4 separate regions of the Homo sapiens genome follow, and all the other regions are linked to region 1. The links come from fine-mapping of genetic effects on gene expression. A gene starts in region 1. Each other region holds a variant in brackets. All regions are shown on one strand. Distances are from middle to middle.

Region 1 (8,101 bases):
TTGAATCCTGGGCTCAGTGGTCCTCCCACCTCGCCCTCCGGAGTAGCTGACTGCAGGTGTGCACCATCACACCTGGCTTTTTTTTTTTTTTTTTTTTTTTTTGGCAACAGGGTCTTCATAAGTTGCCCAGGCTGGTCTCAAACTCCTGGGCTCAAGTGATCCTCCCACCTCAGCCTCCCAAAGTGCTGGGATTCCAGGCGTGAGGATTAAAGGTTCCAGAGTGTCCAGCAATCTTAACATTGCTCCACGTTCCACTACAGAAAGGGGATAAGGGAGATGGGTTTCTTAAAAGGTCCTCTAATGGTTCTATTTGTGAAATGGATCCTTCATGTAACAGTTCATGTGTGTCTGTTTGAATGAACAGTAGTACTGCTACGAATATCAACACCTGTGTGCCCAACACACAGCAGCTGAAGCAGAAGGAGTAGAGTCTTACCTGCCAAGCCCTCGGCGCGGGTTTCAAGGTCTGTTACTGTTGCTGTAATAAACTACCACAGCCCGGGGGCCTGAAACAACAGAAGTGTGTTCCGTCACTGTTCTGGAGTCCAAGTCCAAAATCAGCATCACTGGGCTGAGATCAAGGCGTGGTACCCTCTGGAGGCTCTGGCAGGGTCCTTCCGGCCTCTTCCAGCTTCTGGGGGCCCCGGGCATTCCTTGGCCTGTGGCCACATCACTGCAGTCTCCGTCTCCGTCCCCATGTGGTGTTTTCTGTTGGTCAATCCTTCCTCTGCCTGAAGAAGCATGTGATGGCACTTGGGGACATCCAGACAATTCGGGACAGTCTTCCTGTCTCAGGGCCTCTTTATCAAATCTGCAGAGACCCTTTTTCCAAAGTAAGAGAATACCTTCTTTATTTATTAATTTTTTTTTTTGAGACGGAGTCTGTCTCTCGCCGAGGCTGGAGTGCAATGGCCCGATCTCTGCTCACTGCAACCTCTGCCTTCCGGGTTCAAGCGATTCTCCTGCCTTAGCCTCCCAAGTAGCTGGGATTACAGGTGTCCGTCTGCCACCACGCCCGGCTAATTTTTGTATTTTTAGCAGAGACAGGTTTTTGCCATGTTGGTCAGGCTGGTCTTGAACTCCTGACCTCATGATCCACCCACCCCAGCCTCCCAAAGTGCTGGGATTACAGGTGTGAGTCACTGTGCCCAGCCAGGAATAACACATTTAAAGGTTCCAGAGATGACAATCTGGTATCTTTGAGGGCCATTCTTCAGTCTAATACAAACTATCACAAAGTTAGTGACTTCAAGGAACACACATTTATTTTCTTACAGTTCTGGAGGAATGGGCTAAAATAAAGGTGTCTGTAGGGCTGGTCCCTTCTGGAATCTCCAGGGAGAGTCAATCTCCGGCCTCCTGAGCCTCTAGACAGCAGCATTCCTGGGCTCCCGGCTGCGTCCCTCCAGTCTGCCTCTGTGGTCACACTACAGCCCTCTCTCTCAGCGACCCCCTTCCCTCTTTCCTGTAAGGACCCTCGTGATTCCGCCTGGATCATCCAGGTTAACCTCCCCATCTCAAGGTCCTTGAGGTAGTCACATCTGCAAAGTCCCTGCTGCCATATACAGCAACACATGCACAAGCTCTGAGCACGGGGATGGGGGTGTCGTTGGGGGCTGTTCTTCAGGGTCAACCACACACCCTTCCCCTGTTGCAGATTCTTTTTTTGTTGTTGTTGAGACAGTCTCGCTCTTGTCACCCAGGCTGGAGTGCGGTGGTGCGATCTCAGCTCACTGCAGCCTCCGCCTCCCGGGTTCAAGCGATTCTCCTGGCTCAGCCTCCCGAGTAACTGAGACTACAGGAGCCTGCCACCACGCCCAGATAATTTTTCTATTTTTAGTAGAGATGGGGTTTCACTGTGTTAGCCAGGCTGGTCTCAAACTGCTGACCTCAGGCAATCAGCCCGCCTTGGCCTCCCAAAGTGCTGGGATTACAGGAGTGAGCCACCGCGCCCGGCCTACTGTAGATTCTTCTCTTGCCCCGAGCGGTAACCACCATCTCCAATTCTGTGCAAACCATCCTCCTGGTTTTCTTTATATGTTTATGTGTGTCCAAATATGTTGTATCTTTAAACAATACATCGTTAGGCCAGGTACAGCGGCTCACGCCTGTAATCCCAGCACTTTGGGAGGCTGAGGCAGGCATATCCTTTGAGCCTAGGAGTTCAAGACCAGCCTGGGCAACATGATGAAACCCTGTCTCCACTAAAAATACAAAAAATTAAGCTGGCATAGTGGTGTGTACCTGTAGTTGCAGCTACTCAGGAGGCTGAGGTGGGAGGATCTCCTGAGCCCAGGAGATATATACATATATATATAAATACATATATATGCGTGTGTGTGTGTGTGTGTGTGTATAATTTCTATTCTCTCCACCCCCAGAGGTGAGACTCTGCTTTCTGCCTGCCTTGGAGAAGGGTGGGCGAGATGAGCCGTGTCCCTCACTCCAAGTCACACTTCAGGTCTTCCACGTGGAGACCTCTGAGCTATCAGTGGACGGCGGGATTCCTGGAGCTGCTGGAACAAAGCCCCACAGGCTGGTGGCTTGGACAACAGCCTGTGTTCCTTCCCAGGCTGGGAGGCTCTGGGGAAGAACCGTTCATGCCTCTCCCGGCTCCTGGTGACCCCACGATTCCTGCACTTGCTGACTTAGGGCTGAGCACTCCAGTCCCACTGGCTGCTGTCCCCTGTATCTCCTCCATTCCTGTCTCCTCCAAGGGTGCCGGTCACCAGCTTTAAGGCCCACCCCAAATCCAGGATGATCTTATCTCGAGATCCTTAATTACTTCTGCAATGATTCTTTACCTAAAGAAGCCCCTATTCTCAGGTTCTGGGTGGACCTATCTTTTTTTTTTTTTTTTTTTGCGACAGAGTCTTGCTGTGTTGCCCAGGCTGGAGTGTAGTGGCACAATCTCAGTTCAGTGCAGCCTCAGCCTCAATCTCCTGGGCTCAAGCCATCCTCCCTCCTCAGCCCCCCAGGACACATCTTTAGAGGGTCACCATTCAACGCACTGTGGTGGGCAAGGCTGCTTTGAGTTTCCTGGTTAGGATACAACCAGCGCTGTGTGTGGATGTCCACACATGCCCCCGCCCCCGGCTGTACAGCCACCGGGAGACTGAGTAAAATGTGAACTGAAGGAGGCCCCAAGGGTGGCAAGCAGAGAAATGAAGGGAAATGTCCCTTACCCACGCCTCTCTCCTTCCCCCACGTGACACTTCTCACAGCAGGTACCGGTACGTGTGCACAGAGGAGAACCCAGTGCCCTTCAGGGAAGAGGGTGCTGAGCCCCTGGACCGCACTTAGGTCTCGCCCCAGCTCTGTGATTTGGACCTGGGCCCCCGAGCCCTAGTCACAGCCGGGGCGGCCCAACTCGCTCCGCCATCGGAAGGCTTCTGGTCGCTCTCAGGGAGGAGCCCCTCTCGTATGGGAATCGAGGTGTTCAATGCCCACGATGCGGAGACCGCCTGGCCCGAGTGGGCCAGTGATCTCAGCTTACAGTCCAGCTCCTTCCTCCCCATGGCTAAGAGGTCAGCACCAGCTCAGGCAAGTGGCGAGGGTGGGATGAGGATGACAGACGGGGTGGAGGCAGGTGGCTGCGAGGGGACAGTGTCAGGACCTCCTAGGAGATCAGGTGTGCTGCAGGGAACAGGGAGAGCCTAGGAGGGGACAGGAAAGTGAGGAGGGGGAGTGGAGAGGACTCCCTGGGCAAGAGACACGAGGGCCAGCACTCAGGCCTCCACAGCCATCCACTGCATGAGCCAAGCCCAGGGACAAAGCTCTGTGACCAGGATGCCCCCAGCAGCCTGACCCTAAGAGTTGAGAACTGTGCCCTGTGAGCAATGTGACCTGAGGGTCCCGGAGTCCTGCGGGGGCTGTGCTGTGTGAGGGCCACCTGTCCTTTAGGTGGGGTACTAAGGGGTTGTGTCCTCTATGGGCTGTGTCGTGGGGGGGCTGTGTGTCCTCTGGGGGGCTATGTGTCCTGGGAAGGTCCCTGTGTCCTGGGAAGGTCTCTGTGACCTGGCGGTCTGTGTGTCCTGGGGGGGCTGTGTGTCTTAGGGGGACCTCTGTGTCTTCTGGGGGAATATGTGCCCTGGAAAGGACTCTGTGTACTGGGGGAGGCTGTGTGTCTTAGGGGGGCTGTGTCCTGGGGGGGTTTCTGTGTCCCGGGGGGGCTGTGTGTCCTGGGAGTGCTGTGTCCTGGGGGACCTCTGTGTCCTGGGGGCACTGTGTGTCCTGGGGGGACCTCTGTGTCCTGGAGACTGCGTGTCTTGGGGGTCCTCTGTGTCCTGGGGGGTCTCTGTCCTGGGGACTGTGTGTCTTGGGCACCCTCTGCGTCCTGCAGGAGCTGCGTGTCCTGGGGGGGCTGAGTGACTTGGGGGCCCTCTGTGTCCTGGGGGTCTCTGTCTCCTGAAGGGGGACCCTAGTATTGTGGCGCTTCTGGGCTTGCCTCTCATGAGGGATGATGCACCGGGCCTCAGTTTTGGGTCAGCCTCCTTTACCGGCTCTCCCCCCTTCCTCCGACCGTCAGGTATCCGTGCCAAGCCCTCAACGGGCCATCCTCCTTCCCGCGGCGACCCCGCGCATGACAAGGCCAGACCCTCCCGCGAACGTGCTCTGCGCTCCCGCCTGGCCCCTCCCCGCCCCGCCCCTCCCCCTCCTCCCCGCCCCGCCTCGCTCCGCCCCTCCCCGCCTCCGCCCCGCCCCGCCCGCCCTGCCTCTCCCCGCCTTTCCTCGCCTCGCCCCGCCCCGCCCCGCCCCCTCCTCCCCGCCCCGCCTCGCTCCGCCTCTCCCCGCCTCATCCCGCCCCGCCCGCCCTGCCTCTCCCCGCCTCATCCCGCCCCGCCCGCCCTGCCTCTCCCCGCCTTTCCTCGCCTCGCCTCGCCTCGCCCCGCCCCGCCCCTCCCCGCCCTGCCTCGCCTCGTCTCGCCTCGCTTCGGTTAGATGCGCTCGGCGCTCCATAGGCTCCCTGGTGGGGCGCGGGCGCGCGCACGGACGTCCAGCACGCACGCACGCACGTCCAGCACACACGCACATCCAGCACGCACGCACGTACGTCCGGCACTTCCGGCCGCGGCGGCCTCAGCGCCGGCCCGAAGGGACCAGGCCGCCGTCCCCAGCGAGAGGCATGCAGCGCTGAGGAGCGGCGACCCAGCACGGCGGCGCCATGAACCTCCTGCCGTGTAACCCTCACGGCAACGGGCTGCTCTACGCCGGCTTCAACCAGGACCACGGTGAGGAGGCGCGGCCCTGTCGCCTTGCCCGGCCGGGCCTTCCCGCAGCCCGGGGTCCCCGGCTCTCAGGCCTCTCCTGGGCGCCCCTTTCCGGCCAGGCCTTCCACCCGGGACCCCGGCCCCGCCCGAGCTCCCCTCCGAAGCCCCCGGCCCCGGCCCTCGCCGCTGCTCCCAGCCCGAGCCGGGGTCCGGACCAGGCCCGAACCGGCTCCCACCTTCCTGGCCTTTCGCGCTCCCCCACCCCCCGGGTTGTGACCGCTCCCAGCCGGCCGTCCCGGGCCGAGGTCGAGGTCGGTGGGAGACGGCACAGAACCCCAGCCTCCTGCGCGGACGCCCCTCCCCGCGCGCCACGCCCACTCGGGTTCCCTGGCTCCCTGCGGGCTCCACGGTTATCGGGATTTTCCCCACAGCGTGATTGACGCCCTGCCCAGAACCCCGTTTTGCCCCCTGTTCCTTTCAGGGTCTTTAGTAGGTAGCCCGTGGCTGAGCTGACTTCGCTTGGGTTTACTGGAGCCGCGGAGCCGGCGTCTCCGACGCCTCTGGTGGCGAGTGGCGCGGGTGGGGTGCAGGTCTCACCTTTCCCGTCGGTTTCCATCGGAAAATGTCACTCTCCCCACCCCCACTCCCCGGGATTTTTCTTCGTGTTTGGTGGAGTCAAAGGACTTAAGGGAGGCCTTTGAGGGAAATCTTACTTCTTTTCCCATGTCGGAATCCAGGTGTAAGCACTGGATGATTTAAAGCGCCCAGGGAAGGTGACCTCCTTCCCCGCAGGTGCTTCGGAGCTGCGGGGGATGCGGCCGGGGCGGCGCGGTCGGATTCCCGCGGGAGGCGGGCGGGACCTGGATTCGGATGGTTGCCTCCTCACCTCCCATTTGAAGGGCGCGCTTCCCAAAGGTCCTGATGGGGAGGAAAAGGAATGTCCGTTATTCCGAGACAGGCTTCTGCGAGGCTTTACATGTTGGCTTTGGAAGTTTTGTTTTTGAAGAGAATCCAGGCAGGTGCTGTATGATCCCGTATATGTGAAGACAATTTTATTTATTTATTTATTTCATTTTGAGACGGAGTCTCATTCTGTCGCCCAGCCTGGTGCGATCTCGACTCACTGCAACCTCCTCCTCCCGGGTTCACGCCATTCTCCTGCCTCAGGCTCCTGAGTAGCTGGGATTACAGGCGCCTGCCTCCACGCCCGGCTACTTTTTGTATTTTTAGTAGAGACGGGGTTTCACCATGTTGGCCAGGCTGGTCTCAATCTGACCTCAGGTGATCCACCCGCCTCGGCCTCCCAAAGTGCTGGGATTACAGGCGTGAGCCACTGCGCCCGGCCGGATTACACATATTTGAAAGAACTCCCTCTCAGTGATTTTGATGCCTGATGCCCTGGGACCAGTCAGGCTTCCTGGGCGCTGCCAGCTTCCCCAGGGTTGTGTGCTGGGGTTTCTCCGGAAGAAAGTTTTGCTGAGATGGTAAGGGAGATGCCTAGCCTTCTCAGAGGGTGGTTTCCAACCATCTGGTGTTTGTAATGCCTTCTTTTTAGTGAAGTGTGCTATACCTGTAGAAGGGTGGATATATCATAAGTGTTCAGGTGATGAATTTTCCAAACTACACACCTGTCACTAACAATTAAGAAATTGAATATACCTGGCCACGCTTGATTCCAATAAATGCTCCCTACCTGACTTGTGACATCATAGATTAGTTTTGCCTACTTCTGTACTTTATTTTTGTACTTATTTTTGTTTCTAGCTGTTTTTTTGTTTTGGGTTTTTTTTTTTTTTTTTTTTTTTTGAGACGGAGTTTTCGCTCTTGTTGCCCAGGCTGGAGTGCAATGGCGCGTTCTAGGCTCACTGCAAACTCCGCCTCTCAGGTTCAAGCAATTCTCCTGTCTCAGCCTCCCGAGTAGCTGAGATTACAGGCATGCACCACCATGCCTGGCTAATTTTGTATTTTTAGTAGAGACTGGGTTTCTCCGTGTTGAGTCTGGTCTTGAACTCCTGACCTCAGGTGATCCGCCCACCTCGGCCTCTCAAAGTGCTGGGGTTACAGGCGTGAGCCACGGCGCCAGGCTGTTTCTAGGTTTCTTACTCAACATCATGTTTGTGATTTTTTTTTTCCGTATTGTTGAGTATAGTTGTAGATCTTTTTTTTTTTCTTTTTCCGAGACGGATCTTGCTCTTGCCCAGGCTGGAGTGCTGTGGCGTGATCTCAGCTCACTGCAACCTCTGCCTCCTGGGTTCAAGCGATTCTCCTGCCTCAGGCTCCCGAGTAGTTGGGATTACAGGTGCCCGCCACCGCTCCCGGCTAATTTTTGTATTTTGAATAGAGATGGGGTTTCACCGTGTTAGCCAGGATGGTCTTGATCTCCTGACCCTGTGATCCACCCACCTCGGCTGCCCAAAATGCTGGGATTACAGGTGTGAGCCACCGTGCCCGGCCAGATCATTCTTGATGTACAATGTTCTTTTGTGCAGACATACAACAATTCATATATCCAGTCTACCATGGTTGGGCATTTGGGTACGTTCCAGTTTTTGGCTACCATAAGCATAATATGAGTAATAAGAGTAATGATTAATCTAGAAGATGTCTCTCAGTGACCATATGTTCACATTTCCACAGGCATGTACTTCTATATACCTAGGAGTAGAATTGAGAGTATAGTAGATAGTACAAATAGTTTTCCAAAGTGGTTGTACCACTTTGCCCTCAACTAGCAGGTCTAAGAGTTCCCATGGCTCTACACCCAGCTCACATTTGATGTTTTCTCTTATTTTTGGTCATTTTGGTGGCTGTGTACATCTCTCTGTTGTTTATTTGCATTTTCCTGATTTTGTGTTTCTTGACCACTTGGATATCCTCTTGTGACATGTCTA
Region 2 (8,101 bases), 330 kb before region 1:
TGTTGATCACCTGTTTATGTTATTGGTAAGGCATCCGGTCAACAGTAGGCTCTCAGCCATGTCAACCTAAAGAAAGATGCTGAGGCAAAGTTAGTACATGTGGAGGGTTTATTTGGGCCACGTGTGAGGACGGCATCCTGGGGGACGTAGATTCAGGTGGCTCCGAACATATGCTCCAGTTAGCAGCAGTTACAGTGGGTTTGAAAGAAAGAAAGAAGGGGCAAGTTCCCACACTGGTTCATTAAAATAACATAAGCTATTGACTGGCTGTAGATGGTTCTTTGCATCACAGATTCCAGGAGCATGAAGATAATGGGTGAAGGTCACATTGTCTAACTTGTGTAACATTTCTTGTGATTTTTCAGCCAGCCTGGAAACAACAGGGAAGGAAAGGAAGACAAATGCCTTTAAACAGTTGGCCCCACATGGGTGCGGCGGGGGAGGCATGATGCAGGTCTCACCCTCGCAGCTCCGCTGGGGCTGGTGAATACCTCGCGTGGCGCCGACTCCTCTGAGCCACTTTTGTTTCTCAGTGCTTAAGTTTTGGGGGAGTCCAAGGTTATACGTGGATTTTCGGCTGCATGGGGAGTGGGTCACCCTAAACCCTGTATTGCTAAAGGGCCTACCTCATTTCCTCCTGATCTGTGGCTGGAACTAGGATCATGGATTTGGCGTTTTATCCAGGATCCCTGACTCTGACCCCCTGTAATTATTTCCTAAGTAACTAGAGCAATAAGAATATCTTTTAAAGTATTGAGCCTTTTGTCCTTGGTTTCTGAAGTAAATTCTGAAAGATAAAGCTGGAAGAGTCTTTTGTTTACAAGTTCCTTCAAACACACCTGAGTTTATGTTAATGAGGCATTTTTGGAACACCCCTAGATACCGCAGGATGAGGGGGGCTGGTTGCCAGGGGAACCAGCCATGTGCTCAGAGGGTTGGAACTTTGAGCCCCACCCCCAAACCTCCGGGGAGGGAAAGGGGTTGAGGCTTAGGGTGATCAGCAATGGCCCACGAGCTACGCAACCACACCTACATCATGAACTCGTACAGTAACCCAAAGGGACGAGCCTCGGGGACTTCCAGATGGCTGAACACATGCAGGGTCCTGGAGGGTGTTGGGCCCCAAGAGGACCTAGACCGTCTACACCACTTCCCCCATACCTTTCCCCGTCATCTCTTCATCTGTATCCTTGAATAACATTCTTTTTAATAAACTGGTAGGTGTAAGTAAGTGTTTCCCTGAATTCTGTGGGTCCCTCTAGAAAATTAACTGAATCCAAGGAAGAGGTTGTGGGAACCCCGATTTATAGCTGGAGGGTCAAACAGCCTGGGACTTCAGTTGGCATTGGAAGTTGAAGAGAAGGGGTCACGGGGACTGAGCCCTCACCTGGGGGGGTCTGAGGCTGTCTCCAGGTAGATGGTGTTGGGATTGAGTTAGAGGATGCCTGACTGGTGTCTACTCCAGAACTGATGGTTTGCTTGGTGTATGGAGAACAGACCCGCACATTGTGGTGGGAGAGCAGAGGAAAAACAGCCTTTTCTACGTGGGGGCTTCCCTTTTCATCCACGTAGAATTTTTCACAGAACAAAAGTTTCTAATTTTGATGAAGTCCAATTAATTGATATTTTTTGATGTATTTTTTTAATATGCTTTGAGTGTCAACACCCAAGACTACTTCACCTAACCCTAGGACATAAGGATTTTCTTCTAAAAGTTTTATAGTTTTACATTTTACATTTAGAGCTATGTCCTTGTAGGCTGAGTTAGTGTGAGGTTTAAATCAAGGGTTTTGTTTGTTCGTTTTGGCTTATGAATGCCCACATGTTTCTACACTGATTTTGCTGAAAATCCTTCTTCCACTGGTTGCTTCTGGGCCTTGTCAAAAAACCATCTGACCACAGAGTGTGGGTCTGTCTGTTCCTGGACTTTGTTCTAGTCCATTGACCTGTGTGTCTGTCCCTCCACCAGTAACATCATCTTGATGACCAGGTCTTAAAATTGGTTAATGTGTTTCCTCTAACTTGTTTTTGGCTATTCTAGTATTTCTGCCTCTGTATATAAATTTTAGAATCAGCTTGCCTATATTTACAAAGAATCTAGCTGAGATTTTCATAGCAAGTGAGTTAAACTTACAAATCAATTTGTATAGAGTTGACATCTTTACTATAGAGTTTTCCAATTCACTATTTGTCCCGTCCTCCACTGAAATTTTCCTCGATTTCCTTCATTCACATGTTGTAGTTTTTAGTGTACAAGTCCTGTACATTTGTTAGATTTATACCTAAGTATTTGTTTTAGGCAATTATACATGCTACTGTGTGTTTAATTTTGGTTTCTAATTGTCCACTGCTAACTTACAGAAACGTATACCTAAAAGTTACAGGACTGTTCAGACTCTATTTCGTCTTGGTATAATGCAACTTACAGCTCTGGCAGCTTGCGATTTTTGAGGAATTGATCCACTTGCTCTAAATTATCCAGTTTGTGTGTTTAGGGTTATTTGATAGTATTCTCTGTGATGCGTTTAGTATCTGTGAGGCCTGTAGTAATATCCCCTTTCATTTTAGGTATTAGTTATTTGGGTCCTCTCACTTTTTTATCAGTCTTGGTTTATTATCTATTTTATTAATCTCTTCAAAGAGCCAGCTCTTGGTTTGACTTTCCTCTATTGTTTTTCTGTTTTCAATTTCATTCATTTCTGCCTGATTGTTTCTTTTTTCTGCTTGCTTTGGGGTGTCATTTTGCTCTTCCTTTGTGGTTTTTCTAATGTGGAAGCTGAGTTTTTTGTCCTCAGACCTCTCTTCTCTTTTAATGTAAGCATGTAGAGCCAGCAACTTCCCTTTACATACTACATCAGCCGCATTGTACAGGTTTTCAATGTACTTCCATTTTCATTTTGGTCAATACATTTTAGATTTCTTTTGAGACTTCCTCTTTGGCCCATGGATTATTGGGAAGTGGGTGGGGCTGCTGCTGATTGCTGGGGTTGTGGAGAAGACTCACCAGGCCCTTGACATGTGGGAGCAATGGCGTCTTCCTCCTTGTCTCTAGACTCAACTGGATTCGTACTGAGAAGGGCATTCTGAGAAACTTCACTCCCAGCTTCAACTGGTCCAACATAGCAAAATCAGATTTTTTAAAAAATAGAAGGAAGTAAATTAACTAAGAAAAATACAGAAAAATTTCCTAGAACCAAAACGTACGAGTGACCTGATTAGAAGGGCTCACCTGGTGTTGCGTGCAGGAAATGAGACCTGCATCCGGGTTCACGGTCGGGATGCTTCAGAGCCCAAGCACAGTCAGAGGGAGGAACACCAAGGAGCAGGAATCGAAGAGCCCGGAATTCCTCACTCACAGCAGCGGAATCCAGGAGACACCAGGACACTAGTTTCAGATTTCTCACAGAAAGGATTTTGAACTAAGAATTTTATGCCTCACCAAAGTGTCAATCACGTGCAGAGATATAACAACCTTTTCATATTCAGATTCAACATATCCATCTCCGATAAAACCTTCCTCGGGGCTTTGCTGGAGCCAGTCCCTAAAATTAGGAAGCAAACTGAGGAAGGTGTGAGATGGGACTCACAGACTCGCAGCCTGGGGGAGAAGCAGAAGGGACCCCAGGAGGAGGCAGGGGAGTTCAGCCCTGGGAGCCGGGAAAGGAAAGGCCACGCGTGGCTTGTTTTTATAGAAATAAAGGATTTTAGGTACAAACAGCACGTGCTTTTTTAAAATTACGGAATTACTCGGGGAGCAACGGAAAACACCTGATGCCCTCCACGTAACCAGAGGTGGCCCGGGTCGCATGGTGACCACCCACTGCCACCACCTGTGGGAACCTCCAGCCAAGCCCCAGGGCAGGAGGAGCTTGGGAAACGGAAAACAGGAGTGCACATCGGTCGGGATGGAGCGGAAATGCTGGGCACCAAACCCCGGTGATGAGAAGACAGAAACCGCAGGAAGTACTAGAGCGTACGTTTCCATGCTCGTGTGTGACATGGGCAGCGTGAAAACGAGGCTGTTCTGAGGCCTCGTTCCACCCCCCTCGGTCCCAGACTGGAATCAGCCGGCTTCTCCTCTCGGGCGTCACCGTCCTGCCCTGCGTCCAGTGCCTGAACACCTCCATTTCACAGATTCTGTGTGATTTTCTAGTTGTCTGAGGAGGGAGAGTGGTCCAGCTCTTTCACGGTGACCAGAAGTGGGAGTCACCAGCGGTGGGTTTCGAGTTGCACCCCAGACCCCCCGGAGAGCCTGAGGATTGGGGCGTTGCTCGCTCCCCACTGTAGCTGCGTTCCAGATACCCATGAGTGCTTTTAAACAAAGAAAAGTTTTTTTTTGTTGAAAATGTTAAGTACACCAAGGGGTAGAGACCACTGTCACATAACGGTACTCACCCCCCTCCCAACACTGAGCACCCGGAGTCTTTCGAAGCAACCCCAGACCCGACCTCAGTCACTCCTGAATACTCCGGTGGGTGGGGGGTGTTACTGTTCATGGGGTTCCATCCTCAAGCCGTTTTAAAGTCACGGATGCAAACACGGTCCGTGTCGGGGCGGCGCCGCAGCTGTCCTTATTCACGCAGGTTCCGACTTCGCGGCCTGTAAGCCCCTTTCCTCTTGCTTTCGGGCCTCCGTTCATGGGTGTCCTCGATCTTTCCTTCTAATAGAGAATACGTTTCCCAGTGTTCCTCTGCCTC[C/G]CTTTGTTCAGTGGGCCAGCGTTTGGCTTACGTTAAGTTTCTCCCCTGCCGTGGCCTTCGAGGTGGGCACTGCGGGTCAGCAGGACTGTCTTCCGGCCTCCCTGCCTGGGGCCACCTGGGGCCCTGACTCCCTGACGGTGGCCTCCGGCCCCTGGGAGGATGGAGTTCGGCTCTGTCCCGGGGCCCTCGTTCCCCATAAGTGGCCTCCAGCCCCTGGGAGGATGGAATCCGGCTCTGTCCCGGGGCCCTGACTCTCCATAGTGGCCTCTGGTCCCTGGGAGGATGGAGTTCGGCTCTGTCCCGGGGCCCTGACTCTCCATAGTGGCCTCTGGTCCCTGGGAGGATGGAGTCCGGCTCTGTCCCGGGGCCCTGACTCTCCATAGTGGCCTCTGGTCCCTGGGAGGATGGAGTCCGGCTCTGTCCCGGGGCCCTGACTCTCCATAGTGGCCTCTGGTCCCTGGGAGGATGGAGTCCGGCTCTGTCCCGGGGCCCTGACTCTCCATAGTGGCCTCTGGTCCCTGGGAGGATGGAGTCCGGCTCTGTCCCGGGGCCCTTGTTCCCCATAAGTGGCCTCCGGCCCCTGGGAGGATGGAGTCGGGCTCTGTCCTGGGGCCCTGTTTCCCCATAAGTGGCCTCTGGCCCCTGGGAGGATGGAGTCCGGCTCTGTCCCGGGGCCCTGACTCTCCATAGTGGCCTCTGGTCCCTGGGAGGATGGAGTCCGGCTCTGTCCCGGGGCCCTGACTCTCCATAGTGGCCTCTGGTCCCTGGGAGGATGGAGTCCGGCTCTGTCCCGGGGCCCTCGTTCCCCATAAGTGGCCTCCAGCCCCTGGGAGGATGGAATCCGGCTCTGTCCTGGGGCCCTGTTTCCCCATAAGTGGCCTCTGGTCCCTGGGAGGATGGAGTCCGGCTCTGTCCCGGGGCCCTGACTCTCCATAGTGGCCTCTGGTCCCTGGGAGGATGGAGTCTGGCTCTGTCCCGGGGCCCTCGTTCCCCATAAGTGGCCTCCGGCCCCTGGGAGGATGGAGTCGGGCTCTGTCCTGGGGCCCTGTTTCCCCATAAGTGGCCTCCAGCCCCTGGGAGGATGGAGTCCGGCTCTGTCCCGGGGCCCTCGTTCCCCATAAGTGGCCTCCAGCCCCTGGGAGGATGGAGTCCGGCTCTGTCCCGGGGCCCTGACTCTCCATAGTGGCCTCTGGTCCCTGGGAGGATGGAGTCTGGCTCTGTCCCGGGGCCCTCGTTCCCCATAAGTGGCCTCCGGCCCCTGGGAGGATGGAGTCGGGCTCTGTCCTGGGGCCCTGTTTCCCCATAAGTGGCCTCCGGCCCCTGGGAGGATGGAGTCCGGCTCTGTCCCGGGGCCCTCGTTCCCCATAGTGGCCTCTGGTCCCTGGGAGGATGGAGTCCGGCTCTGTCCCGGGGCCCTGACTCTCCATAGTGGCCTCTGGTCCCTGGGAGGATGGAGTCCGGCTCTGTCCCGGGGCCCTGACTCTCCATAGTGGCCTCTGGTCCCTGGGAGGATGGAGTCCGGCTCTGTCCCGGGGCCCTGACTCTCCATAGTGGCCTCTGGTCCCTGGGAGGATGGAGTCCGGCTCTGTCCCGGGGCCCTGACTCTCCATAGTGGCCTCTGGTCCCTGGGAGGATGGAGTTCGGCTCTGTCCCGGGGCCCTCGTTCCCCATAAGTGGCCTCCAGCCCCTGGGAGGATGGAGTCCGGCTCTGTCCCGGGGCCCTGACTCTCCATAGTGGCCTCTGGTCCCTGGGAGGATGGAGTCCGGCTCTGTCCCGGGGCCCTGACTCTCCATAGTGGCCTCTGGTCCCTGGGAGGATGGAGTCCGGCTCTGTCCCGGGGCCCTCGTTCCCCATAAGTGGCCTCCGGCCCCTGGGAGGATGGAGTCCGGCTCTGTCCCGGGGCCCTGACTCTCCATAGTGGCCTCTGGTCCCTGGGAGGATGGAGTCCGGCTCTGTCCCGGGGCCCTCGTTCCCCATAAGTGGCCTCCGGCCCCTGGGAGGATGGAGTCCGGCTCTGTCCCGGGGCCCTGACTCTCCATAGTGGCCTCTGGTCCCTGGGAGGATGGAGTCGGGCTCTGTCCTGGGGCCCTGGTTCCCCATAAGTGGCCTCCGGCCCCTGGGAGGATGGAGTCCGGCTCTGTCCCGGGGCCCTGACTCTCCATAGTGGCCTCCGGTCCCTGGGAGGATGGAGTCCGGCTCTGTCCTGGGGCCCTGGTTCCCCATAAGTGGCCTCCGGCCCCTGGGAGGATGGAGTCGGGCTCTGTCCCAGCCCCACGTTCTTTGCCTGCTTCCACCTGTGCCTGTCTGCGCCGTGCAGACACTGGTTCCCAGCCTGCCTGTGCCTCCTGCCGCTGTTCCAAGCTGTGGGGGGGACCCAGCTCACCCCCAGGGTCCAGTTCAGACTGGAAGGGAATGTGGCCCCCCACACCCTCAGCCTTGATGTGGGGCCAGGGACACCCGCTGTGGGGGGTGAATGTGCTGATTAGACCCTGGGTGGATCCCCACACACAAGCAGTCAGAGGGTCATTTACAGCCTGAGCTCACTCCGCAAATATGATCAGGATGGGAACAGGCAGCTGGCAGCCTCCTGCCTCACTCCTGTCCCTCACGAGGGGACGCAGCTCTGCCTGACCCCTTGGGGAGGCACCAAGTCCGCCCTGACTCCGCCCCGCCTGAATCTGCTGGCTGCTTTGCGGGCAGCTCCTGAGGGCAGCTGTGTTCTGCTGAGACTGAGCCACCTCTGGGCCCTGGGCCTCTGCTCGAGGCGGCCAGCGTTCAGCCAAGCTCGTCCTTCACCTCAGGGGGCCTGTGTGGTTGTCACGCACAGTGTCCAGGGTCAGCTTGTCAGCGCCGGCCACCCGGGCGGCCTCAGTCAGCACGCGTTCCCCAAACCTGTGGGGCCCACGCTTGGTGCTGAGGGTTGATGAGGAGCCAGGGAGGACCAGGAGAGTGGAAGTGGGACCTTCTGCCAGCTCCGTAGAGGACAGCCTGGAACCGGCTCAGACTGGAGGCAGGGAGGCCCAAGGGGCAGGAGAACTCTCCGAGGGGCAGAAACAGCACTGCAGTGGCAGTCGCCCATGGAGCGTGGAGTGCTGGTCCACGACACCCTCTCGACCCACGGTGAAACGCGCCCCATGGGGCAAGGGGCTGGGCTGCTTGCTGGTCAGTGGCAGGCGGGGTGGGAACACACAGGTACACGGGGCCCACCTGGGTCTCTGCCACTCTCTCCTGTCCACACGGGAGAGGAGTTGAATCCTAAGGCATCTCTTAGCAGCCCCAGCGCCATTGTGGGGCCACTGCCTGAGAGCCCCTGAGCTCCATCCCCTTTGGGTCACCTCTCTGGGACCCAGTCCGACTGTTCGTAAGATTCAAGGGTGCTGGCTGCTCTGTGCCCGCTCGTTTG
Region 3 (8,101 bases), 390 kb after region 1:
CCGATTAGCCCGCCTTACTATGCTAGGAAGGAGAACACATCCCTCACTTGGTCCTTCATGGAAAACACATAGTGCTTGTTGTTTCTCCAGCATGTTGGGTTATTTGGTGGATACCAGGTAATTCCTGTTGTGGTTTTCTTTCTTTGCCAAGGTACGGACATTGCTGCAGGAGAAGAGGTTGCCATCAAGCTTGAATGTGTCAAAACCAAACACCCTCAGCTCCACATTGAGAGCAAAATCTACAAGATGATGCAGGGAGGAGGTAGGTCTTTACCAGTCACAGAGCAACACCAGGGTTCTGTTTGACAAGGGAGAACAGCAACTCAGCATTGCTGGTTAAAATAAACCCAAAACTGGTTCTGGGCAAAAGGGAGGGAAGTGTTCTCCACACCCTGACAAAGCAGTCACAGCTTCCTTCAGAGAGTCTTGGGTCCAGAGACCCTCCCTCAACACAAAGAAACATCTTATGGGCCGGGCATGGTGGCTCACGCCTGGAATCCCAGCACTTTGGGAGGCCAAGATGGGTGGATCATTTGAGGTCAGTAGTTTGAGACTAGCCTGGCCAACGTAGTGAAACCCCGTCTCTACTAAAAATACAAAAATTAGCCAAGTGTGATGGCGTGCACCTGTAATCCCAGCTGTTTGGGAGGCTGAGGCAGGAGAATCGCCTGAGTCTGGGAGGCAGAGGTTGCGGTGAGCCGAGATCACGCCACTGCACTCCAGCCTGGGCGACAGAGTGAGACCCTGTCCCCCCCAAAAAAAAAAAAAATCTTATACCATCTTGTCCTTTTGTTTAAATTTTGCTTCATATTGGGTCATGGTTTCTGAAATCAAGAGTGTGTGTGAATAGGCCAGACGCAGTGGCTCACACCTGTAATCCCAGCACTTTGGGAGGCCGAGGCAGGCGGATCACGAGGTCAGGAGCTCGAGACCATCCTGGCTAACACAGTGAAACCCCGTCTCTACTAAAAATACAAAAAAAGTTAGCCGTTCGTGGTGGCGGGCGCCTGTAGTCCCAGCTACTTGGGAGGCTGAGGCAGGAGAATGGCGTGAACCCGGGAGGCAGAGCTTGCAGTGAGCCCAGATAGCGCCACTGCAGTCCAGCCTGGATGAAAGAGCGAGACTCCGTCTCAAAAAAAAAAAAAAAAAAGATTTTGTGTGAATTTCAATGCATGCTCCCCGTGGTGTCGTGTGCCCCTCAGTGGTCACTGGAGCTGTTGCCAGTGGCACGTGTGTTGCTCAGTGGGGCCTTCCTGATGTGTGATCCCTGAGTGAGGCCTCTGCTCCTTCGCATGCTTTGCTTATAGCTTGGGGGAAGTCCCTTCATACTCTCTGGGCTCGTTTTCTCCGAGCAAAACAAGGGTTTTGAACTTGGCGACCATCATGACCTCTTCCAGCTCAGTTACTGTCCCAGTTCTGCGAGCCCTCAGCCCAGGGCCTTAGGTACCTGGTGTTCCACGGTGGGCCAGGTGTGGAGCAGAGCGCTCCTGTCCTCCCCTCAGAGTCCAGCTCTTGCGAGTTCCCTGGACTTTCAAACAGTTGGGCTGATGGAGCAGGAGGGTATTCTCTGCGGGGATTTCAGAGCCATGAAGCGTGTGTCTCAACAGCAGAGCTTCGGTCTGGCAGGAGCCCTCTTTGGGAACAGAGCTTTTTGTCTGAAGAGTGGCTGTGCCACGTCTGTGGAGCCCTCCCAGTGAGAAGGCTCCGCGGCACATTTGTAGGTGGATGGTTGGGTGAGTCCCCTTGGGCAACTGGCCAAAGGAAAACCTGTTCAGGGCCTCTGTTAGCCCTTTTGTCACGGGAAAGGGAGGACTGTTGATTTGATTCTTTGACATCTTTTCTCAGCACAAGCACGTAATCTGTGCTACTACAAGAAACCGACGTTTCTAAGTTTATGTGACACAAAATATCTTTGGCAGCACCTGTGGTCCTGGGGAACCCGTTACAGAGAGGGGCACCCAGTGTGTCCCATCACGGGCCTCACGTGACCAGAGGAGGCCACAGGAATGAAAAATCCCATCACCAACCCAGGGAAAGCTCAGCAGAGACTCCGCCCTGGGAGCCTGTCTGGCGGCCCTTGGTGGTGGACTGGCTTCTCAAGGGCCTGGAGCCTGCATTGCCTTGAAGGTGTGACGAGCCAATAGAGCAGGGTGGTGCGGGGTGTGGCCTTGGCCTGCGGGAGCCTGGTGCTGGGGTCAAGTAAAACCTGCAAGCTTAAAAACACCTTAAGTTTTTACGAGAGATGTCTCCAGGAGAACTTGCAAGCCAGGGGTACACAAGGGCAAAGGGAAGAAAGCCAGTCCTTAGAAGCCCGGGATGGTCACTGGGGAAGCCAACCCTGAACCAAAAAGTGCTACGTGGTTCCGGACAGGACTTCTCCACTCGGCACTAGTGCCATTTGTAGTGGTGCGTTCTCTGCATGGTAGATGTTGGCAGCACCCCTGCCCCTAGTTGTGATACTCAAAACTTTCTTCAGACAGTGCTGAAGGCCCCTGGCAGGCAAAGTTGCTTCCCCTGTGGCCGCTGGCTTAAGAGAGTAAAGAAGCCTGCACCTTCATGTTCCTGCCCATGGCACCTTCTCTAGGATCCTGGAAACCAAATAGGATTTCAGAAATGGTTTTTCTCCCATTTGGGCTTCGAGCGCATTGCCATGTCCCTGACCATTCCAAAATGTAGGTCAGGTCTTCTGTGTTAAATGCACAGACACCTGGTGGATACTGTCAAGGTTTTGGTTTTTGTTTTTGTTTTTTGTTTTTTGTTTTTGTTTGGAGACAGAGTCTCACTCCGTTGCCCAGGATGGAGTGCAATGGCGCAATCTTGGCCCACTGCAACCTCCGCCTCCTGGGTTCAGGCCATTCTCCTGCCTCAGCCTCTGGAGTAGCTGGGATTACAGGCATGAGCCACCCTGCCTGGCTAATTTTTGTATTTTTAGTAGAGATAGGGCTTCACCACGTTGGCCAGGCTGGTTTTGAACTCCTGATCTCAGGCGATCTGCCCACCTTGGCCTCCCAAAGTGCTGGGATTATAGGCGTGAGCCATCGCGCCCGTCAGATACTGTAAAGATCTAAAGATCTGCATTTTAGAAAACAAATGATGTCCGAGAAGGCAAAAGGCCTAATTCTGGTGGTGGTTCTTGAATTCACTTTGAGACTAAACCGGGGAGTTGACAAATAATGGGAAGAAATTGTTTCATCCAGAAGCCACCAGATCTTGCCACTGCCATTCTTGTGCAGTGTCTGCTATGGATGATGCAGATTGTCCCCTTGTGCAGATTGTCCTGTTATGGGTGGTACAGATTGTCCCCTTGTGCAGTGTTTGCTGTGGGTGGTCCAGATTGTCCTGCTATCTCTGAAAAAAAGGGCAGCAAGCACCACTCATTGCGGTTTTCCTTCCTTTCACGTGAAAGTCAAGTGGTGGTGCCAGGTTCTGATCTTTACGTTTGCTTGATGGATGCTGCCTTCCAGGAGAAAGCTCCACAGCGAGTGCATTCTGTTCTCTGCAGCTTGGGAAGAATGAGCCTTAAAAACACACTGGTCACTGCCCATAGCAGCCCTGGGCAGTGGGTACTGAGCTCTTCAGCCTTATGTTGCAAATGAGGAAACTGGGTTTAGAAGGCTGTGTAACTTCACAGAGGACAGACTTGAACTTGGGCATTCTAGCCCCCCAGGCTACTGCTGAAGCAGCTGTCTGCTCCCAGAGAAGGAAATGGCGGCCACCCTACGTGGCCTTCAGCTGTCAGGAATGTGCCCCAGATGCTCCCACCTGTCCCAAATCTGGTTGGGACAATAGATTCAATACCTGAAATAGTAGAAAGAAACTAAAAGTAGCTATGTTGGTGGAAGATTTGGATAGACACCTAGTTTTTATGAAAACCTACTGGACTGGTGGGCAAAACCTGGGGACAGTTGTAACTGCTCTTTCCAATCCT[A/G]ACATCCCCCAAAAGCAGCCTTAGCTCACTCCCTCCTTGGGGAACCCCTCAGCAAAGGACATTTACTTAGTTCACAGCTGCTTTTCGTCAAGGCTGAGATGGTAGGCATGGTTTGAGGGAGGGAAGAGGGGAGTACGTGTGTAGAACCCGGGCCAGTGGGTGACGGTTCTGTGGCTGAGGGTGGGCGACTGTCTTCCATCATCTTTTTCTTGTGAAATATTGTACAACACCAAAGAATGTATGTAACATGTACGGTATCGAGGACATTAAAATCAACAACCAGGACCCTGCCCTGCCCACCTGAGAGGGAACACTCCCTGTGGAGCCCATTCGCCCGCCCAGCCCCATGTCTGTGCCAGGACCTTGCTCACCTGTTTGTAAGTTTTTGTTGCTTTGTCATCCTACAAGAAACTTTTTTCAAAATCCAAATAATGAAATTATCTAGAAACATTTTAGTTATATAAATCATTTTAGGGTTCAACTGCTGAAAACTTCATGAAAATTTCTATTTGCATTAATGCTCAGTCCCCACATTTATATTGAAACTTTTCACAGATGAGAGTGGAGCATGTCTTCATGTATCTGGCCTTGTCCACCCGATTTTTATCCCCACGCATATGTTTAGCTACCTTCGGGCACCATGAGGGAAAAGTGTTGAGACTACAAATAGCAGCATGAGTGGCCGCTTCCCACCGTGACAGCACCTGGGCAGGGCAGCAGGGTGGCCCTGGATGACTAGCACACTTGGGCGCAGGCAGCCTTGGTTCTCTTTTCAAACCCATTGGCTTCACTTGTTCCTGCAAAATCACCAGTAGCAGTAAGTCCATAGAGCACAAGTGCATTGAGAGGCAAGAGCATGTTGCTTTTACTGTATTTTATTCATTCTCTAATGCCATGGATGACGGGGTACATTGTTACTTACAGCTAACAAAAGGGGTGATTTCTGCTGAGACATTTGGGGGGTAGGGAGGAAAAAGAAACAGGCCAGGTGCAGTGGCTTACATCTGTAGTCTCAGCTACTCTGGAGGCTGAGGCAGGAGGATGGCTAGAGTTCGGGAGGTTAAGGCTGCAGGGAGCTGTGATGGTGCCACTGCCCTCCAGCCTGGGTGACAGCAGGACCCCTGTTAAAGAAAGATGGTGTCAGTAAATACATCATCAGTCACATCAGTCGGTACACCATCAGTCAGTACACCATCAGTCACATCACTCAGTAGACCATCAGTCTCATCACTCAGTACACCATCAGTCACATCAGTCAGTATACCATCAGTCACATCAGTCGGTACACCGTCAGTCAGTACACCATCAGTCACATCAGTCAGTACACCATCAGTCACATCAGTCAGTACACCATCAGTCACATCAGTCAGTACACCATCAGTCACGTCACTCAGTACACCATCAGTCACGTCACTCAGTACACCATCAGTCAGTACACCATCAGTCCCATCACTCAGTACACCATCAGTCACATCACTCAGTACACCATCAGTCACATCACTCAGTACACCATCAGTCACATCAGTCAGTACACCATCAGTCACATCACTCAGTACACCATCAGTCAGTACACCATCAGTCACATCACTCAGTACACCATCAGTCACATCACTCAGTACACCATCAGTCAGTACACCATCAGTCACATCAGTCCGTACACCATCAGTCACATCAGTCAGTACACCATCAGTCACATCACTCAGTACACCATCAGTCAATACACTATCAGTCGCATCACTCAGTACACCATCAGTCACATCACTCGGTATACCATCAGTCACATCACTCAGTACACCATCAGTCACATCAGTCAGTACACCATCAGTCACCACTCAGTACACCATCAGTCACATCAGTCAGTACACCATCAGTCACATCACTCAGTACACCATCAGTCACATCAGTCAGTACACCATCAGTCATATCAGTCAGTACACCAGTACACCATCAGTCACATCAGTCAGTACACCATCAGTCACATCAGTCAGTACACCATCAGTCAGTACACCATCAGTCACATCACTCAGTACACCATCAGTCACATCAGTCAGTACACCATCAGTCATATCAGTCAGTACACCATCAGTCAGTACACCATCAGTCACATCACTCAGTACACCATCAGTTCAGATGGATCAGGAGTCCATGCCACATAGTCTTTTGAATACATGAAAGTTTTAGTGTTACGCGATGCAGTCTGTATTCTGTACCTTTCTTTGACCCAGAGTATTCCTGAGATTCTTCCCCATCGATTGCAGCTCTAGGTAATTGATTTTCATTGTTTGATCATCTACATAGCTGTATACAGTAGCTTCGTCTGACTCATACTGCGTTGAGCCCTGGGGAGCTTCTAGCATTTGCTGTTAGGGACAGTGCTTTTGTGCACATCTTGTCCATGTGTCTGGGGCACACATGCCAGCACCTACGTGTGAAGTTGCAGTGGCTGTTGCTTGGTACGTGCAAATGTCCAGTTCTGCAGGATAACGCAGACGTCTGCATATTGATACATATCGATTTTTCCAAGGTGGTTATGTAGATTTCCATTCCCCCCTGCAGTGCAGCCAAGTTTTGTGTAACCCACATCATCCTCAGCCTCACAACACTGTTTTCAGCAGGGCAGAGGGTGAAAAAGGCAGAAATAAAACTGCTGTTACTGGCATGTGATGTGATGTAATTTCCTAAATAGGGATCTCAGAACAGATTAGAGAGTTGAGCAAATTTAAGATCAAAATATAAAATCAATTCATTTTGTTAAACCAACAATTTAATTGGTTACAAAATGTAATTTAAAACATAATGCTTACAGTAGCAAAAAGGTATCTGGGGTAAATTTTAAGACAGATAAGATCTGCATGCAGAAAATATATAAACTTTATTGAAGGACATTTAAGGAAGATTTGCTTAATTCTCCTCTATGTTCAGAGAAAGGAAGATGCCAGGTGTCAGGTCTCCCAAAGTTGCTCTTAACATTCAATGACGTTCCCATCGACATCCAGCCACTTCTCTTTCCTGACAAGGTGACTAGAATTCACTGAGAAGAGTGCAAGTCCAGGATTAATTAAAACACTTGTGAAGAAGAGGGCCATTTGCCCTGCAAACACCAGCACTTACTATAAAGCTGTCGTGATGATACTTTGTGTGGTTCTGGCCACGAGAAGGGCTTAGAAGGAGGACAGCCTAGAACACTGAGCACACCGGGCCTCAGGGGTTTCTAAGTATTTATCATTCTCTGTTAAGAGGAGTCCTGAGTGCTTGGAGAAGCAGCTGATTCCAGGGCTGGGGCAGAAAGAAAGAAGGTGAATCTGGAACACATGGCAGGCATTTGTTATGAGGTACGGGAAAAAGTTTGAAAGGTGATCTGTTGCCTAAATTTGGGACAGTGAAAACTCCAAAATGAGTATTAAGAAGAAGGAACTGTGACTCATTGGAGTGGAGAAAGGGAATTTGGGAATCCGTAATGCTGCATCTAGAGAGAGAAAAGAATTCACAAATCCGTAATAAGGTTGAGTATCTGAAACACCCAAAGTCGGGAACTTTATGAGTGCTAACATGATGCTCAAAGGAGATGCTAATGGGGGCAGTTTGGATTTTCAGATTAGGGATGCTCGACTGTGACGCAGAATGCAACTATTCCCAAATCTGAAAGTAGATGTGTATTTGCATATATATAATATATATATATACACATATGTTCAGGTTTATATATACATTTATGTTTTTTATATAAATATATACATATATATAAAAGACCGAAACATAAATACACATATATATGTATATGCCTCATGCCTTTAACTTTTTTTTTTTTTTTTTTTGAGACGGTCTCATTCTGTCACCCAGGCTGGAGTGCAGTGGTGCAATCACGGCTCACTGCAGTCTCGACTTCCTGGGCCTAAGCCATCCTCCCACCTTAGCCTCCCGAGTAGCTGGGACTGTAGACACACAGCACCATGCCTAGCTAATTTTTAAAATTTTTTTGTAGAGACGGGGGTCTCAGTATGTTTTCTTTCTGGTCTCAAACTTGGACTTAAGTGATCCTCCCACTTCCACCTCCAACGTGCTGGAATTATAGGCCTGAGCCTGGCCAGTTAAAAAACTTTTCGACGGTGGAATACAGTCGAAATCTGTAGTAACGTTTCATGGCTTTCCCTGCTGATGTGAACATCCGGGTCT
Region 4 (8,101 bases), 36 kb after region 1:
TCTGGACTCCTCCACATCCACACAAGGCCTGAGCTGTGCTGGTTTTCTCTGCAGCATCAACTTCAATCAGGATGCGTCCCTCATCTGCGTATCCAGCGACCACGGCACAGTGCATATTTTTGCAGCTGAAGATCCAAAAAGGAATAAACAGTCCAGGTAGGTGTTAGGATGCCTGCTGGGGAAAAGCCGGGGGATGAGAGGAGTCCCCAGTGTTTCAGTGTGGACGGGACAGGCCCCCCACCCCAGCAGGGTGGTGTGGACAGACCTCATATGCTATCAGCGCTGAAATCTTTTTCATTTAATTTTATATTTGTTGGGGTTTAAAAATCAGTGCAGGCTGGGCACAGTGGCTCATGCCTGTAATCCCAGCACTTTGGGAGGCCGAGGTGGGCAGATCACCTGAGGTCAGGAGTTCGAGACCATCCTGGCTAACATGGTGAAACCCCATCTCTACTAAAAAACAAAAACTAGCCGGGCGTGGTGGCGGGTGCCTGTAGTCCCAGCTACTCGGGAGGCTGAGGCAGGAGAATCGCTTGAAGCCGGGAGGTGGAGGCTGCAGTGAGCCGAGATTGCGCCCCTGCACTCCAGCCTGGGCTACAGAGCGAGACTCCGTCTCAAAAAAAAAAATTTTTTTTTTAAATAAAATTGTACAACAGGCTTTGTCATGCATGGCAAAAAAAAAATTCATTAAAGCTCAAACCATATGAAGGAGCATTTTCGTATTTTCAGCAGCGTATTCTGAGCTTACGCAGGTGATTTTTTTTCCTGTAAACTTTGAACCACCCTTTCTTTTCTTGTCTTCACAGTTTGGCCTCAGCCAGTTTCCTTCCAAAATACTTCAGTTCCAAGTGGAGTTTCTCCAAGTTTCAGGTTCCCTCAGGCTCTCCGTGCATTTGTGCCTTTGGAACAGAGCCAAACGCCGTCATTGGTGAGTGGTCCTTCCTGGAGAGAACGTCCCCACCCGCCCCACCTGGGCTCCATCCACTGAGCGTCAGACCTAACTTCCCATGGACGTCCCAGCACCGCGCTGTGGCACCGATGGCCGCCCAGTTCCCCTTATTTCTCCTGTGGGCTCAGTGTGTCCCGCTTACGGTCTGCACGGCCATTTGGGATGTCTTCAGCCCCCATCCCTCCAGTTTCCCCCAGGAAATCACAGGGACAGGTCTTCCAATGTTTGTATAGATGACCAAGAATGTTTCTTAACCCTGTAGCCAACACCGGGTGATTAGATGCTCACACCAAGACAGTCAGGATTCCCGGCCACGGTGCCGACCGAACGCATTCAGTGGGGACCCTGGGGCCTTTCAGGGCTTTCAGAGCAGCTGCCTGGCTCCAAGAGGCCCTTTGCAGTTCAGCTCAGTGGGACTCGTTGCTTTTAACTTGAGGGAAAGAAACACACAGGTAAAATGGTCTCCTTCTATCCCAGCAATTTGTGCAGACGGCAGCTACTACAAATTCCTGTTCAACCCCAAGGGGGAGTGCATCCGAGATGTCTACGCGCAGTTTCTAGAGATGACCGATGACAAGCTGTGACTCCAGCTGGGGGCGCCACAGCACCCACCACCTGCCGCCTTCAGACTCTCGGGGCTGGTGCCAGTGCCCCAGGGGCCTCCTGGGCCACGGGCTGGAGGGGCTGCCCAGGGACCTTGGTCTCGAAGCCATACGTGGTTGTCTGCTTTCCTAAGGACTCCCATTTCCAGTATTAAAGAGAGAATCATCATCAAGGCACCGTAGGTAACTCAGTGGCTGTGACCAGCTCGACTGGCGGCCACTGGCTGTTCCCATGAGTTCAGCTGTGACGTTAGCTTCAGTGGCTCCGCCGCATCCTCACACTGACGGGGGCTCCATACGGACCTGGGGACTGGGCTGAGAGGGTGGACGAGTTCAGGTTTGTTTTTGCAGCAGATTCCGTCGTTCTTACTGAGTCTGCAGCGGGGGAGTGAACAAGTGTGCAGATGTAAGTTCTTACATGATAAGCAGATTGAATACAACACCAGCAGCTTGCCTTAGAAAAGGAGAAAGGAATTCCTTTTCCCGCCCGAACATGAAGAAAAATGACCTGACCCTGTAGAGAGAACACAGTGTGAATGTTTCCCCTCGTGTGAGCCCAGCCTGTGGTCTTCTCCGTACCCGCAACGTGGTCATCTGTGCCCGTGACGTCACCTGTGCCCGTGCGTGGCGTCCCCGTCTCCGTTGGGGCCATTAGAATGAGGCAGACACCAGGCCACTCTAGAAGCCGAGCCGTCACACCTCAGGCGTGTGCGGGGCGGGGACGGGGGGTCTCCTGGTTACATTTTGGATTAAACCTGTTTCCCGGTTATGTGTAGGGAACAGCAGAGTGATGCACGAACTTTGAACATTCGTTATGGGGAAAACATCCTTTAACTTCGGGGTCGTCTGCCAGAGCAGGGTCTGGGAGGGTCCATGCAGTTCCCGCTGGTGTGGAGGGAAATGCCCTGGTCTGGCCTCCGAGCCCCCAGGTCCACCGTCTCCCCTCCCCTCATTTGTAAGAATAGCTACACACTAACATTTTGGGAAGGAGAGGCACATAACTTTTTTTAACATTTGGTAACTAGGTTATGGGCTCTACATTGTCAGCTACTTGGGATATATATTTAATTTTCTTAAATTCCCGTTAAACTCTATTTTATGGTTTTGATTTCAGATTGCAAACATGTAAAACCTGCATAGCAGCGAGTTCTCGGTTTTGCCGGTTTCTTTAGTTCTTTACTGTCACTGTCATGTAATCAGCTAATTCTCTGTGGATGTTGCTGTAAAGTATGCATGTTCCTTTCATGTGTATTTAATCATGATGTTTAATTTTGCACACTTATTTGTAATGTTTCTTTTAAATAAAAGTGACTAATTTTGTTGTAGTCTGGACCTGTAATGGGAAGTAGAATTGTGTGTTATGAAGCCAAACACTCTTCCCCTTGCTGTGAGAATCTGGTTGGAGTGTAGGCTTCAGAACAGCCTGTGGGCCTGAAGAGGCGCCGGCCTGTGACAGGACAAGGTGGAAGCCAGGGTCACTGGGTGCGGAGCCTGGAGCTTCACTCCCTGTGTCGGGACAGGACAGCCTGCCCTCCTCATTCCCTGTGTCGGGACAGGACAGCCTGCCCTCCTCACTCCCTGTGTCGGGACGGGGCGGCCTGCCCTCCTCACTCCCTGTGGCGGGACGGGGCGGCCTGCCCTCCTCACTCCCTGTGGCGGGACGGGGCGGCCTGCCCTCCTCACTCCCTGTGGCGGGACGGGGCGGCCTGCCCTCCTCTCTCCCTGTGTCGGGGATGGGACGGCCTGCCCTCCTCTCTCCCTGTGTCGGGACGGGGCGGCCTGCCCTCCTCTCTCCCTGTGCCCCAAGGGCACCTCTGGAGGAGGGAGGGAGGAAATGCATCTGTAGGAGGCCTGTGTGGCTCTGGGAGGTCTGAGGCTCCTGCTGGCCTG[T/C]GGAGGTGGAGGGTGGCTGGCAGCAGCAATGTCCCTGCATGTTGAAGTGGCAGCTTCAAGTGAGCCGGCGTCACCCTGGCTTGTCTAACACTTGAGATCTGACTCTGGGTGGGGGAGTAGGAGCGTAATTACCAGTTGATAAACATGAATCTGGGGGAAATGCATGCAAGAAGGGTGGGTTTTCTCGCAGTGCACGTGAACAGCCTCAGAACTGATGCGGACGGCGGGGCTGTGTCACAGGCCCGTTCACCAGGAACGTGGCGAGGGCCTGCACGGACGTGCCTCATGTGAGGCCCTGGCGGCACCGGCCCTCCCCAGGCATGTGCTTTTTAAAAATCACTGTAGAGCGGCAAGGACACGGTGTCCCTAGGCCGGCGGACTCGGGAGCGCAGCTGCTTTTCAAGTGGAACTGATGGGAAGCGCAGTGTATGGGAAACAAGGCCGGGCTGCTGCCTCCCCCACGAACCTCCTGTGCCCCGGACGTGGGTGCGAAGGGACTCCAGAGTGACTGCCTCAGACGGTGCCTACTCAGCAGCTTTCCTGTCTGATCGTACAGGTGCGTGGGCATGGATGACTCCGGCTGCGTTTCTGGTCTGTCCTCCCTCCCCTGTGGCCCTGGGATGTCTTGCGGGGACAGGCGGCTTGTGCCCTGTGGAACGCAGCCCTGACCCATACCCACCCTGTGTTTGGCGTTGATGCCTGTGTGAACCCCTGGCCACCTCCCGCTCCCACCACTGTAGTCGGGGGCGCTGGCCATCTGCAGCCTTCTGTGATCAAAGAGTTTTATATTTGTGTTTTCTTTCTGCAACCAAACCAAGCCCCTGAATGCCAGAGCTCTTTCACGTGACTTAGTCCTCATCTCTCTTCTGTTGTGTCAGAGGCATTTGGTTGATGACATTGTTGAAACTTGTACCAAAATTTTTCTCTTCCAGATGGATCAGAGAATACAATGAAAAAAAAGTTCCTTATAAAATAATAGAAAAATATAAATTTGTAAGCAAAATTGCCCCGTGTTTCTACCTCCAGAGAAGATCACTCTCAGACAACCCCACACCTGAACGTAACATCTATTTTTATTTAAAAAATTGTTTTGGTAGAGACGGGGTTTCTCCTCCACCTCCTGGGCTCAAGCGATCTTCCCACCTTGGCCTCCCAAAGTGCTCGGATTACAGCCACCACGCCTGGCCGCCTTTTTTATTTCAGATACATTTGTCAGTTCTAAAGTTGGTTTCTAATTCGTGGCTGATGACTTGTGTCTGCCCATTTGTACGCGCTCTGTGCGCTTTCAAGTCCTTGTCTGCCGATTCCAGCATCTGGGTCTTCTTGGAGGATGCCTCCTGATTTTCCTTTATTGAGTGGGGACTTGGGGGTGACCCTGCCTGCCGCTAGGAATGGCTGTTGAATTTTGTTAAGTGACTTTTCTGCATCTGTTGTGATGATCACACCTATCTTTTACGCCGTGAACGTGGAGCATCACGTTGATTTTTGAATGTTGAGCCAACCTTGCTGTCCTGTGGGAAAGCCCACTTGGTCACAGTGTGTTATCCTTAAATACTGCTGAATTCGCCAGGCGCGGTGGCTCACGCCTGTAATCCCAGCACTTTGGGAGCCTGAGGTGGGTGGATCACCTGAGGTCAGGAGCTCGAGACCAGCCTGGCCAACATGGTGAAACCCTGTCTCTACTAAAAATACAAAAATTAACCAGGCGTGGTGGCGCGTGCCTGTAGTCCCAGCTACTTGGGAGCGTGAGGCAGGAGAATCAGTTGAACCGGGCAGATGGAGGCTGCAGTGAGCCGAGATCGCAGCACTGCACGCCTGCCTGGGTGACAGAGACTCTATCTCAGGAAAAAAAAAAAAGAATTCTACTAATACTTGGGGATTTTTTTTTTTTTTGGATGTATATGTATAGAGGATTCTTATTTCTAATTTAGCTTGTAATATTCTTGCCGCATTCTGGAATTTCGTATCAGGTTAGTGATTTTGTGGTTTTGGCATTAATTTTAAAATGATTTGTCTTACGCAACATCCACCAAAATGTAGACATACAATGGGTTTTAACAAAAGCAAATGTAGACTTGAGACTGAGGTGGCATCTAGTGAAATGTCATTTCTTTTGTAGCTCTGTTCAAGAGAGACGCCACCGTCTGTAGAGGCCGTGAATCCCCCGACATTTGCTCTGAGCCTCCCACAGACACCTGCGGCCCCATCTTGAGTTGTCCATGCTGGCTGCCAGCCAGAAGCCTGTCATCTGTGTAAGATGTTTCAGATGGTGAGTCTGACGACGCTTCTGGGGCATGCGAGCTGAGGGCTAATTATCTCCTAATCTCTCTCGGGTATGTGGAAAAAACAGGCAAGGATCTGGCCAGATACTGTGGAAAAGGGTGTCCTCCTGACCTTGATAGCAGAGTGTAACTCCAGAAAATCAGCATTTTTCTACCTCAGTTTCAGTATTTGCACAAGGGACTTGAACTTATGTCTCACATTATTTTTACCATTATCAGCATATACGACAGCTGCCTATCCTTTTTTTTTTTGAGACAGGGTCTCACTCCAGGCTGGAGTGTGGTGATGCAATCTCAGCTCACTGCAACCTCTGTCTCCTGGATTCACGTGATCCTCCCACCTCAGCCTCCTGAGTAGCCGGGACTACAGGCGTGCACCACCACGCCCGGCTAATTTTTGTTATTGTTTTGTAGAGACGGTGTCTGTGTTCTCCAGGCTGGTCTTGAACACCTGGCCTGAAGCAGTCCTCCCACCTCAGCCTCCCAAAGTATTGGGATTACAGGTGTGAGCCACCGTGCCCAGCCGTGCTTCTTTTTTTCTTTTTTTTTTTGGCTCTGTCACCCAGGCTGGAGTGCCGGGGTGCAATCAAGGCTCACTGCAGCCTCGCCCTCCTGGGCTCAAGTGATCCTTCTGCTCCAGTTTCCCAAATAGCTAGGACCATAGGCATGCACCACCATGCCTGGCTAATTTCTTTATGTTTTGTTTGTTTGTTTTTGAAACGGAGTTTCGCTTTGTCTCCCAGGCTGGAGTGCAGTGGCTCAACCTCGGCTCACTGCAACTTCCACCTCCCGGGTTCAAGAAATTCTCCTGCCTCCACCTCTCAAGTAGCTGGGATTACAGGTGTGCACCACCACGCCCGGCTAATTTTTTGTATTTTTAGAAGAGATGGGGTTTCACCATGTTGGCCAGGCTGGTCCCAAACTCCTGACCTCAGGTGATCCGCCTGCCTCTGCCTCCCAAAGTGCTGGGATTACAGGTGTGGGCTACTGCACTCAGCCTACCTAGCTAATTCTTAATTTTATGATTTTGTTTTAGAGGTGGGGGTCACCCTGTGTTGTTGCCCAGTTTCGTCTCAAACTCCTGGGCGGAGCTGGGCATGGTGGCTCACGCCTGTAATGCCAGCACTTTGGGAAGCCGAGGTGGGCGGATGACCCGAGGTCAGGAGTTCGGGACTAGCCTGACCGACATGGAGAAACCCCGTCTCTACTAAAAAAATACAAAATGAGCCGGGCGTGGTGGTGCATGACTGCAATCCCAGCTACTTGGGAAGCTGAGGCAGGAGAAGTCGATCGAACCCAGGGGGCGCAGGTTGCAGTGAGCCGAGATTGCGCCATTGCACTCCAGCCTGGGCAACACGAGCGAAACTCCCATCTCAAAAAAAAAAACAAAAAAAACACAAAACACACACACAAAAAAAACTCCTGGGCGGAAGCGATCCTCCTGCCTTGCTCTCCCAAACTGTTACAGGCGGAGTCACCACGCCTGGCCTTAATTTCCTTTTTGATTGTTTATTGCTGGTGCATATAAATACAACTTATTTTTATCTTGATCTCGTACACTACCACACTGCTGAATTCATGTGTCAGGCTCTAGTAGGTTGAGTGTGTGTGTATTCTGTGGAAGTTTCTACACATAATCATTCCATCTGCAAGGAGAGTTTTCACCCCTTCCAATGTAGATGCCTGCGTTTCTTGGTCAATGGCTCTAGCTAAGACTTCCAGTACAGTGCTGACCAGCAGTAGTGAAGGCAGGTATTCTTGTTCCTGATCTGAAAGGAAAAGCTTTCAGTCTTTTACTGCTGAGTATGTATACGGTTAGCTCTGGGTCTCTTTGCATTTTTCCTGCTTGGATTTCGTTGAGCTTATTGGATGTGTAGATTCATGTCTTTATCAGATCAGGGAAGTTTTCATTGATTATTTCCTGAAGTGTGTCTTCTTCTCTTTCTCTGCTTCTGAAATTTCATAATGCTTATGTTGTTATGCTCGATGGTATCCCATAGGCCCCTTATTGTTCACTTTCCCTGCATTCTTCTTCTCTGCTGCTTAGACTGGGTAATTTCACTGACCTACCTTCAAGTTCACGGCTGCTTTCTGATGCCTGCTGAAATCCAAATTCCTTTAGTGAATTTCTTATGTTAGCTATTTTACTTTTCAGGCCTAGACTTTCTTTTTAGTCTCTTTTTATAATTTCTATTTTCTGCTATTTCCAAATGTTTCACACTGTTCATATTTCTTTCTTTTTGGGGCAGAGGGAGGGGCAGTGTCTGGCTCTACTGTTCAGGCTAAACTGCAGTGGTGTGATCACGGTGTACTGAGGCCTTAACTTCCCAGGTTCAAGCAATCTTCCCACCTGAACCTTCGGAGTAGCTGGGACCTCA

Direction of the effects. Alleles are on the strand shown, and positions count from the first base shown. SD is a standard deviation of normalised expression in the study named. Not every link is listed here.
For the expression in esophagus mucosa of the gene that starts at base 5,061 in region 1, C is the high allele of the variant in region 2 and G is the other (small effect, 0.27 SD a copy in GTEx).

What was found. PIP is the estimated chance that this variant, and not a neighbour inherited with it, causes the effect.
Region 2: its variant is the best candidate, but not a certain one, in a credible set for the expression of WDR45B in esophagus mucosa (GTEx, PIP 0.77).
Region 3: its variant is the best candidate, but not a certain one, in a credible set for the expression of WDR45B in tibial nerve (GTEx, PIP 0.84).
Region 4: its variant is the best candidate, but not a certain one, in a credible set for the expression of WDR45B in monocytes (TOPMed, PIP 0.87).

The regions. Positions count from the first base shown.
Region 1 is chr17:82,645,404-82,653,504 of GRCh38, reverse strand. WDR45B (WD repeat domain 45B) reads left to right here and starts at 5,061. Exons shown (of 10, transcript NM_019613.4): 1 at 5,061-5,231. The coding sequence starts at 5,165. RefSeq lists enhancers at 4,469-4,538, 4,917-5,416 and silencers at 4,829-4,898, 5,499-5,548, 5,559-5,608.
Region 2 is chr17:82,973,728-82,981,828 of GRCh38, reverse strand. All of the region lies in intron 6 of QTGAL (queuosine-tRNA galactosyltransferase), which reads left to right. Among named protein-coding and RNA genes, the nearest start is that of QTGAL, 74 kb to the left of the region's middle. RefSeq lists an enhancer at 2,546-3,745. The variant C/G (reference allele first, on the strand shown) is at 4,698.
Region 3 is chr17:82,257,847-82,265,947 of GRCh38, reverse strand. CSNK1D (casein kinase 1 delta) reads left to right here. Exons shown (of 9, transcript NM_001893.6): 2 at 152-262. Among named protein-coding and RNA genes, the nearest start is that of CSNK1D, 12 kb to the left of the region's middle. RefSeq lists an enhancer at 1-263. The variant A/G (reference allele first, on the strand shown) is at 3,929.
Region 4 is chr17:82,609,351-82,617,451 of GRCh38, reverse strand. WDR45B (WD repeat domain 45B) reads left to right here. Exons shown (of 10, transcript NM_019613.4): 8 at 55-156; 9 at 807-928; 10 at 1,427-2,890. The coding sequence ends at 1,533. Among named protein-coding and RNA genes, the nearest start is that of FOXK2-AS1, 25 kb to the right of the region's middle. The variant T/C (reference allele first, on the strand shown) is at 3,442.